Regions from separate parts of the Homo sapiens genome. Here region 1 is linked to region 2. Evidence: fine-mapped expression QTL. A gene starts in region 2. The other region holds a variant in brackets. All regions are shown on one strand. Distances are between the middles of the regions.

Region 1 (5,214 bases), 30 kb before region 2:
CCACAGGAAAGGTTTACAGGGCCCAGCAGGTGCCCAGCCCTCGGCGATGACCTTCCGATCGCCTTGGCTGGGCCAGGCTATTCTCTGAGCTCACCAGGTGGTGCTGGCCAGAGCTGGCCCAAGTCAGCACGGAGAGCCTGGGCAGGAGGTGCAGGCTGCGGTGGGTCTCTTGACCCAGCAGCCACCTCGGGCCGTCCTCGAGGTCTGCACCACGATCCAGGCCTGCCCGGCTGCCCGGGGTGCCTTCCTTTGCCCCGTCTCAGAGAAGCAAGGAGACCCTAGCCAGCTGTCGGGTCTACCCCTAGAGGGGGCCGCCCTCGGCCTCAGGTCAGCCCCTCTGGACCCAGGGGTGGGAAGTCACTTTGGTGGGGACGGTCCTGAGACGGAGGCCAGGGCATGGTGGCTTCCCACCCACTGACCTTCGCCCTCCTCTCTGGTCTCTTGAGAAGCCTCTGTGGGGGTTGTTACCATTGGGGCCCCTTGGGTCAGGAGCCAGCAGCTGACCATGTCCTACCTGGGTCCCGGCGGCCGAGCTGGGCGTCTGAGCTGCCCGTCCTGGGTCGGCATGGTGCTAGGCTGTGGCTGCACAGGCTCCTCCCCCTGTGCCAAAAATACCACGTCCCTGTGGCCACATGAGACTCGTGCCAGCCATCAGGGTCCAGGCCACAAATAGATGGCATTTGAGGGCCCTCCAGCTACAGTACATGAGGACGACTTCCTGGCACGGGGCCGGGCTGAGGTGGGGTCAGACACGGGCCGGAGGACGCTGACCAGCAGGCAGCACCGCTCAGTTCCCGTGCCTCCGCCACCCGCGGTGAAACCTCAGACCTGCCCTCCCTGCCGCCCCTGGAATGTTCCTGGCCTGCTTCTGAGATGGCCTCTGTGTCCCGGCCAGGGCTTGTGCCTCCCGGTCCTGACCTCTGGGGCTCATGTGAGGGTGAGTGACGCCAGGGAGCGTCAGCGTCAGAGCCCCCACGCCTGGCTCCGCTCAGCTGCACCCTCCAGGCCGTCCTGACCTTGGGGTTCACGGTGCCCATTCCCAGGCAGGTTCCGAGCCAGAGGGGACAAGAGGACAGGGCGAGGGATCCAACAATAAACATCCGATCAAACAGGCAGGTGAGCTCAGCTCCGATGGCAGCACGTCCTGAGAAAGAAGTAGGGAGAGGCGTGGCTGGAGGGGCCGGAGACCTCTCTAAGGAGGAGGCTTGGACCGAGAAGCTCCTGAGAGTTCAGGGCACGATACTAGGAGACTGGGGTGTGCGCCGTGAGGGGTGGCAGTGAGAGCTGGGCGTGCAGAAAGTGCATGCCTGGTGCCATACGATGCTTTTCCAGAAAGTAGCTGCCACGAGACCACAGGACAAGGCGTCCCGCCACGCAGGGCCGGCCTGACTTGAGCTTTCACAAGTGGAATCGCACCCTGCATCCCTTTCTGCATCTGTGTCCTCGGGCCCACGCCGTGCTCTGGAGACAGCTGCCATGAGGGCCGCGGGCGACTGCCCGGGCGGGTGAGGCTGTCCTGTGTGAACGTGCCACGCGGCTGTGCCGTTTCCCGTGGGTGGCGATGTGGGTCGTTTCCAGTTTGCAGCTACCACACACGGTGCGGCTGTGAATATCTGGGAACATTCCTTTCGGCGAACCTCTCACATTTCCAGGACGCTTGGGGTCAGCGTCAGAAGGTGCCGCCCCGTTCCCCAGGTGGCTGCGTGGCCGTGCTCCAGGCTGGAGTTTCCCAGGAGCTGCGCATCTGCTTCTGTGTGGCGTCTCTCGGCTGCGGCCGCCTCCCTGTGCCTCCTCCCTGTGGGTCTGTAGGAGTCCTTACGTATTCTGGACGAGCTCTTCATTGAACTCTTGTACTGGGGAATCTTCTCCCTCTCTGCCTCCTCTTTCCACCCTCATAACGGTACCTTTCTTTGCTTGTTTGTTTGTTTGAGACGGAGTTTCACTCTTGTCGCCCAGGCTGATGTGCAATGGCAAAATCTCAGCTCACTGCAACCTCCGCCTCCCAGGTTGAAGAGATTCTCCTGCCTCAGCCTCCTGAGTAGCTGGGATTACAGGCAGGCGCCACCATGCCCGGCTAATTTTGTATTTTTAGTAGGGACCAGGTTTCTCCATGTTTCCCAGGCTGCTCTCAAACTCCTGACCTCAGGTGTGAGCCACCGCGCCCGGCCTATTCCTTCATTTAAAAAAAAACTTCAC[T/C]GTGTCGCCTTTCACGCTCGGCTCTGCCACACACTTGGCATTGACTTCTGTGAGAGGTGGGAGGTGGGGGGCACGGGACTCCTGTCTTCACGTGGACGCTCAGCTGACCCAGCAGCACATCCTGGGTGGCATGCACGTGGCATCCGGGCCCCACGTGGACCATCACGAGATGAGAAGGCTTTGGGGCTTGGGACAGGAGAGGCAGGGAGGCCGACGGCAAGGCTGTGGCCAGGGAGCTGTGCGAGGAGGTCTAGGGTGGCGGAGGGAGGGGCCCTACCCTGAGGCCTTTTCATGACGAGCTGTCACTGGAGTTGGCCTGAGGCTTCAGGGGAAGCCCTTCCCTGTATCCAGCCCAGTCATGACCCTTCCTGGTGGGAGGGTGGCTGTAGGATGAGGAATAGTCAGGGCCCCCCTGCACTTCAGGCAGCAGCACCCCTCAGTCCAGGGAGGAGGAATAACCCAGTTCTACGGTGGAGGCAGAGACCAGACCCGGGCCTGGGGGGCAAGTCGGGGGGCGGGGGGAGGTCGGGCAGGGTCCCCTGGGAGGATGGGGACGTGCTGTGCCCCTAGCGGCCACCAGAGGGCACCAGGACACCACTGCGGTCGGCTCAGCGGCTCCTGCCCTGGTCAGGGGGCGCCAGGTCCTGCCCCTCCTGGGGAGGGCGGGGGGCGAGAAGGGCGATTCTGGGGGCGGTTGCTCGGCTCCCTTTCCTGAAGCCATGTGGCCCGGGTGAAAGTCCCGGACCTTGAGACAGTCGGGGAGCTGATCCATGAGCAACCATCGCATGCCGGGTACAGCCGCAAACAATGTACACAGCTGCGGAATTATTTTTCTTTCTTTTTTCTTTTCTTTCTTTTTTCCTTCTTATTTATTTATTTATTTATTTATTTATTTATTTATTTATTTATTTGAGATGGGGTTTCGCTCTGTCGCCCAGACTGGAGTGCAGTGGCGCAATCCCAGCTCACTGCAGCCTCCACCTCCCAGGCTCAAGTGATCCTCCAGCCTCAGCCTTCTGAGTAGCTGGGATCACAGTCGCCATCGCCAAGCCCGGCCTCCTTTTCATTTTTTATAGCTTTATTGAAGTATAATTAACACGTAATACACTTCAAGTATTTATTTATTTAACTATCTATCTATCTATCGTTTGAGACGGAGTCTCACTCTGTCGCCCAGGCTGGATGGAGTGCAGTGGCTCCATCTCGGCTCACTACAACCTCCGCCTCCCGGGTTCCAGCGATTCTCCTGCCTCAGACTCCTGAGTAGCTGGGACCACAGGCGCCCACCGTGTCCGGAGAATTTTTGTATTTTTAGTAGAGATGGGGTTTTGCCATGTTGGCCAGGCTGGTCTCGAACTCCTGATCTCAAGTGATCTGCCCGCCTTGGCCTCCCAAAGTGCTGGAATGACAGGTGTGAGCCGCCCCGGTCTTCAAGTATTTAAAATGTGCAGTTCGCTAGGTTTGGACACATATACCCCCGGGAGCCACCACAAACGTCTCCAACACTCCCAAACGTTCCTTTGGCCCCTTGGTGATTCTTTCCCTCCCCACACTCAGGCAACCCCGAATCCGCTGTCCCTGCAGAGTAAGTTGCATTGGCTAGAATTGTCCGCTGGGCCCTTCTTCGTACAGGACAGAAAAGTACAACACGCCTGTCCTCTGTGACAGCGTTTCTTAGAGATTCACCCACACTGTGGTATATGTCAATTGTTGCTTTTCATACAAAGTGTTCCATTGTTGGATACACTACAGTTTCTGTATCCATGCCTCTCTTGATGGACATTTGGATTATTTCTAGTTTGGGGCTATCACAGGTAAAACTGCTACGAACATTTGTGTACAAGTGTTTGTACTGTGAAAGGAAAGTGAATTTTGGGACCCCCCAAATCACTGAGCCAAATGGAAAAGTCAAGCTGGCAACTGCTTAGGGCCCACCTGCCTCCCGTTCTATTCTTTAAAAAGACAGCTTCTAAGATTTAAATAATAAACAGCTGCCTCCCTCCCTCAGGACGTGTTCACAGGGGAACTCCTTGCAGACACAGGATGAGCAGAATTCAAAGCCGTTCCTCTGCTTGCTGAGATGAGTGAACATCTAATCAGAAACTCAAAAGAATGCGACCCTCTGTTTTATCACCTGTGACCTGGAAGCCCTCTCCCCTCTTCAAATTGTCTCGCTTCTTGGGACTGAACCAATGTACATCTTACACATATTATTGAAGTCTCATGTCTTCCTAAAATGTAGAAAACCCAGCTGTACCCCGGCCACCTCGGGCACAGGTCGTCAGGACCTCCTGAGGCCGTGTCACGGGCACGTCCCTAACCTTTAACCTTGGCAAAATCAACTTTCTTTCTTTTTTTTTTGAGACAGAGTCTGGCTCTGTCGCCCAGGCTGGAGTGCAGTGGCGCCATCTCGGCTCACTGCAAGCTCCGCCTCCCGGGTTCATGCCATTCTCCTGTCTCAGCCTCCCGAGTAGCTGGGACTACAGGCACCCACCACCACGCCCAGCTAATTTTTTAGTATGTTTAGTAGAGACGGGGTTTCACCGTGTTAGCCAGGATGGTCTCGAACTCCTGACCTCGTGATCAGCCCGCCTCGGCCTCCCAAAGTGCTGGGATTACAGGCGTGAGCCACCGCGCCCGGCCTGGCAAAATCAACTTTCTAAATGGATTCAGACCTGTCTCAGATACCTGGGGTTGACCGTGTGGACACATGCTTTCATTTCTCTTGGGTACATACTCGGAATTGGAGTGGCTAGATCATATGATAGGTATATGTTTAACTTTTTGAGAAACTGCCAGACCGTCTTCCAGTGTGGTTGTACAATTATTTATTCCCACTAGAGGTTCCAGGCTCCGTGTCCTCGTCCTCACCCACACTCAGCGCGGGACAGCTTTGTAATTCAGTCATCCCAGTAGGCGCTCATTCTGGTTTTAATTTGCATTTCCTTAATGATGAACAACACTGGGCATCTTCTCACGTGTGCATTTGTTATCCATGTATCTTCTTTGGTAAAAAGA
Region 2 (5,214 bases):
CTGATCTCAAATGATCCTCCCGCCTCAGCCTCCCGAAATGCCGGCATTACAGGCATGAGCCGCCTGGCCTGGATAGATGTTTATGATACACTGTTGCATGAATGAAGCAGGTTACAAAACAGTGAAAGTATGGTGAGGCCTTTTCACCTTTGCTTTTTATTGATGTGAAATTCATATAACATAAAACTAACCATTTTAAAGAATGAAATCCAGTGGCGTTTAGTTATTTACCACGTTGTCCAACCATCACCTCTGTGGAGTTCTGAAACATTGTCACCCCCAAAGGGGCTTGTGGCTCTGAAGCAATCACCCCCCACTCCCCCTCCCTGGCCCCCGGTAACGGGGTCGGCTTCCTGTGCTGCGGCTCTACCAGTTCCGGTCGTTTCCCCTGCGGTGAATGGAACCAACACTCTGCGGCCTTCGTGTCTGGCTCTTTCCACTTAGCATAACGTTTTCAAGGTTCTTTCACATGAATCAGTGCCTCAGTCCTTTTCATGGCTGCATAATATTCCGTTGTGTGGACATTCCACACTTTGTGTGTCCATCCATCACTGATGGACATGTGCTCCGTTCCTGCTACTTGTTTATTGTAAACTGTGCTGCCATGGACATTTGTATGCAAGTATTTGAACACCTATTTTCAATTCTTTTGGACACATGCCTAGAAGTGGAACTGCTGGGTTCCCAATAATTCTGTTGAACGTTTTGAGCATCGCGGCGGCCGCACTGTTTTACATTCTCAACAGCAATGCATGTACCAGGATTCCAGTTCCTCTATGTATTCCCCAGTGCTTGTTACTGCCTTTATGTTTATTTTATATTATTTTTTGAGACTGTCTTGCTCTGCTGCCCAGGCTGGAGTGCATTGGTGCAATCTTGGCTCACCACAATCTCTGCCTCCTGGGTTCAAGGGATTCTCCCGCCTCAGCCTCCCAAGTAGCTGGGATTACAGGCGTGCACCACCACGCCCAGCTAATTTTTGTATTTTTAGTAGAGATGGGGTTTCTACTAAAAATGTTGGCCAGGCTGGTCTCAAACTCCTGACCTTAGGTGATCCGCCCGCCTCAGCCTCCCAAAGTGTTGGGATTGCAGGCGTGAGCCACCGCACCCGGCCTGGCCTTTATTTTTATTATTACAGTCATACCAGCAGGAAATAGCATCTCACTGGGGTTTTGATTTGCATTTCCCCAATTAATAATGATGTTGAACATCACTTTACAGCCGTTTCTATGTCATTGGAGAAATGTCTATTGAAGTCTTTTGGCCATTTGAAAATTGAGTTGCCTTTTTTTTTTATTTTTATTTTTTATTGAGTTGTAAGAGTTCTCTATATGTCCTGGATGCTATGCCCTCATCAGATAGATAATTTGCAAATATTTCTTCCCATTCTATGGATTGTCTTTTCACTTTCTCAATAGTGTCCCAGAGTTCATTTTTGTAGAAAATAAAAGATAGGTCTCTTTTATTAAAAAACAATCTGAGGCTCCGGGTGCAGTGGCTCACGCCTGTAATCCCAGCAGTTTCAGAGGCCGAGGCAGGTGGATCACTTGAGCCCAGGAGTTCGAGATCAGCCTGGGCGACATGGCGAGACCCCCATCTCTACTAAAAATACAAAAAATTAGCCGGGCCTGGTGGTGCACCCCTGTGGTCCCAGCTACGTGGGAGGCTGAGGTGAGAGGATCGCTTTAGCCTGGCAGGCGGAGGTTGCAATGAGATGAGATCGTGCCTCTGCACTCCAGCCTGGGCGACAGAGTGAGAGACCCTGTCTCAAAAACACAAAAACAACAACAAAAAAACACCAATCTGAGCAAATACTGCCCTAAACCGAGTGTTGTTATCTCTGGGTAGTTTGGAGTTCTTGTTTCTCAATTAACCATGGGGATGTTTTCCAAGTTTACTAATTTTGCAAGTTGGTAAATGGAAAATGAAACCATTAGTCCATGTGATGACAGCTTTAGTGCATCCTGTGAAGGATCTGGAATGCGCGATATTTAGGTGTTTCCAGGGTGTTGGGTGGGGGTGGGGATGCCGTCCGCTGTCCGGAGTCCCCGCCACTTTTGCTTTTCCCTGTCTTTCGGTCATTCGGTTTTGTTTCTTCCGCTCACTCTGGGGCATGCCTCGGGAAAGGGAAACCGAAACTGAAGCCAAATTTGGCCACCAGCGCAGGCTCGGCGGCACGCCCCCTGACGTGTGTGCCTCAGGCTTATAATAGGGCCGGTGCTGCCTGCCGAAGCCGGCGGCTGAGAGGCAGCGAACTCATCTTTGCCAGTACAGGAGCTTGTGCCGTGGCCCACAGCCCACAGCCCACAGCCATGGTAAGGCAGATGTCACAGGTGGGGGGAGGTGGGCTCTGTGCCAGCCAATTTTCGTCTCCCTCCCCCAGCCAAGGTCTCCCAGGGGTGCAGGGAGAGCGGAGCTGCTCAGAGCTTGGCCAGGTTCTAAGTGTGCTCCTGAAAGCAGGTCACCCCTGAGATCCTCAGGGTGGGGCACAGAGGGGCACCCTAGCAGGTAAAGGGAGGCCACGGGATGGCGGTGGGCAGCTGGCCTTCTAGTAACGAGCCCTCAGTGCCTTCTGTGCCTGGGGTCCCTGCCGGCGGGATGTAGAGGACAGACAGGAGGGAGCACTGTCCCTGGGTACAGGAGCTCGCCCTGCAGCCAGTGCCTTGTGTGTGGTGGGCCTGGGGCTGGCGCCGCAGTCTCTGAACCTGTGTGACGCCTGCAGGGCTGGGACCTGACGGTGAAGATGCTGGCGGGCAACGAATTCCAGGTGTCCCTGAGCAGCTCCATGTCGGTGTCAGAGCTGAAGGCGCAGATCACCCAGAAGATCGGCGTGCACGCCTTCCAGCAGCGTCTGGCTGTCCACCCGAGCGGTGTGGCGCTGCAGGACAGGGTCCCCCTTGCCAGCCAGGGCCTGGGCCCCGGCAGCACGGTCCTGCTGGTGGTGGACAAATGCGACGAACCTCTGAGCATCCTGGTGAGGAATAACAAGGGCCGCAGCAGCACCTACGAGGTACGGCTGACGCAGACCGTGGCCCACCTGAAGCAGCAAGTGAGCGGGCTGGAGGGTGTGCAGGACGACCTGTTCTGGCTGACCTTCGAGGGGAAGCCCCTGGAGGACCAGCTCCCGCTGGGGGAGTACGGCCTCAAGCCCCTGAGCACCGTGTTCATGAATCTGCGCCTGCGGGGAGGCGGCACAGAGCCTGGCGGGCGGAGCTAAGGGCCTCCACCAGCATCCGAGCAGGATCAAGGGCCGGAAATAAAGGCTGTTGTAAAGAGAAATGGCCGCCTCTGTGTCTGTGCTTGCCCCTCCTCCAGCGTCCGCCTCAGACCCCTGGTGATGGGGCGGGAGAAGTCAGGAGGGAGAACCCAGGGTCCATCCTGGTGACCAGGCCTGGGCTGCCAAGTGAAGGGATAAGGGTTTGCAGTTACAGCTTCGAGGGATCAAAATAGGGAGCCCCCCACCCCGAAACTGAAGTAAGACAGCTCTCCCCACCCTTTGGGAAATTAACTTCTAGGAAAAGAAAAAGAGACACAGTTGCTGGAGCCCATCCTGCCTGTCCTCCATCTGGGACAGCAGACGGCTTAGGCAGGGACCCGCCTGATCAGATCAAAAGGGGAGGCTCCCAGTGGGCCCCTGGGAGCAGTAAGGGGTGAGTCCTTGGGGCCTGCCCGGTGGGCTGTGAGGCAGGCTCTCCATAGGAACTGGGGGCTGGGGACCTCAGCCGTCCCTAGCCCAGCCTACACAGCCTGCTCCACCTGCCTGGGCTGGGCTAGGGAGGGGTAGAGACAGGTCCTGAGCACTCACATCACCACTGGGGCCAGCTGCAGAAGACAGCCTGGGTGGCTAAGTACACCCCCTCAAGGCTGTGCGTGAAGGAGGGGCCGTGGCCAGCAGTGGAGGGCACCTGGAGTTGGGGCTGACACCGTCCAGGAAGCAGAGCTTGTCCCAGGTGGGGGGCCCCCAATTCAGTACAAGCTACAAGCTACACCCCTTCCCCCACCCATGCACCCTTCTCTGTCTCTCCTATTCCAATTTGCTAAATGAGTCTCCTAGAAGCCAGCTGTTGGCCGGGAAGCAGGGAGGACGGGGCACGGATGTCGGCTGGGATGCAGCGAGGACGGGGCACAGAGGGACATGCAGAGTCCGGACTCTGGGCACTTGGGCCTCAGCTTTCAGAGCCCTCGGGAGGATCCGGCTGGAGACACAGAGTCCCCCCTGGTCTGTGGGGGTCCATATCCAGGTGGGGAGACCCCCATCTGGCTGCACCAGGACCACTGTGTGTGCCCGCATGTGCCCAGCAGGGGGTGTCCTGGCTCCAGCCTTGTGTCCGGGTCCCCACCTCACCCCTGTGTCACAATGGGCGAGTGAAGCACTTAGCCAGGGGCCTTTCCTGAACCCCCAACGGGGGCAGGGCAGGGCAGGGCCTCCTTTGTGGCTTCTGGCTCAGAGATCTGTAGCTAGCCTGGGGTGAGAGGGGCACCACAGGCCCAGTCCTTTTTATTATTATTTTTTTTGACACGGAGTCTCGCTTTGTCGCCCAGGCTGGAGTGCAGTGGCGCGATCTCTGCTCACTGCAAGCTCCACCTCCCGGGTTCACGCCATTCTCCTGCCTCAGCCTCCCGAGTAGCTGGGACTACAGGCGCCCGCCACCACGCCCGGCTAATTTTTTTTTGTATTTTCAGTAGAGGCGGGGTTTCACCGTGTTAGCCAGGATGGTCTCGATCTCCTGACCTCGTGATCCGCCCATCTCGGCCTCCCAAAGTGCTGGGATTACAGGCGTGAGCCACCGCACCCGTGCTTTTTTTTTTTTTTTTGAGATAGAGTCTCACTCTGTCGCTCAGGCTGGAGTGCAGTGGCGCCATCTCGGTTCACTGCAACCTCCACCTCCCGGGTTCAAGCAATTCTCCTGCCTCAGCCTCCCAAGTAGTTGGGATTAATGGTGCCCGCCACCTCACCCAGCTAACTTTTTTTTGTGTTTTTAGTAGAGACAGCGTTTCACTGTATTGGCCAGGCTAGTCTCGAATTCCTGACCTCATGATCCGCCCGCTTCAGCCTTCCAAAGTGCTAGGGTTACAAGTGTGAGCCCCCGCACCCGGCCTAATTTTTGTATTTTTAGTAGAGATGGGGTTTCATCATGTTGGCCAGGCTGGTCTTGAACTCCTGGCCTCAAGTGGTCCGCCTGCCTCGGGCTCCCAAAATGCTGGGATTACAGG

The links. PIP is the estimated chance that this variant, and not a neighbour inherited with it, causes the effect. A credible set is the group of variants that fine-mapping cannot tell apart.
Region 1: its variant is the best candidate, but not a certain one, in a credible set for the expression of ISG15 in fibroblasts (GTEx, PIP 0.54).

Annotation. Positions count from the first base shown.
Region 1 is chr1:981,551-986,764 of GRCh38, forward strand. PERM1 (PPARGC1 and ESRR induced regulator, muscle 1) reads right to left here and starts at 543. Exons shown (of 4, transcript NM_001394713.1): 1 at 515-543. RefSeq lists a silencer at 2,787-2,876. The variant T/C (reference allele first, on the strand shown) is at 2,197.
Region 2 is chr1:1,011,262-1,016,475 of GRCh38, forward strand. ISG15 (ISG15 ubiquitin like modifier) reads left to right here and starts at 2,236. Exons shown (of 2, transcript NM_005101.4): 1 at 2,236-2,315; 2 at 2,723-3,279. The coding sequence starts at 2,313. The coding sequence ends at 3,217. RefSeq lists enhancers at 1,899-2,318, 2,206-3,097, 2,719-3,128, 3,098-3,989, 3,289-3,348 and 1 more and a silencer at 4,275-4,495.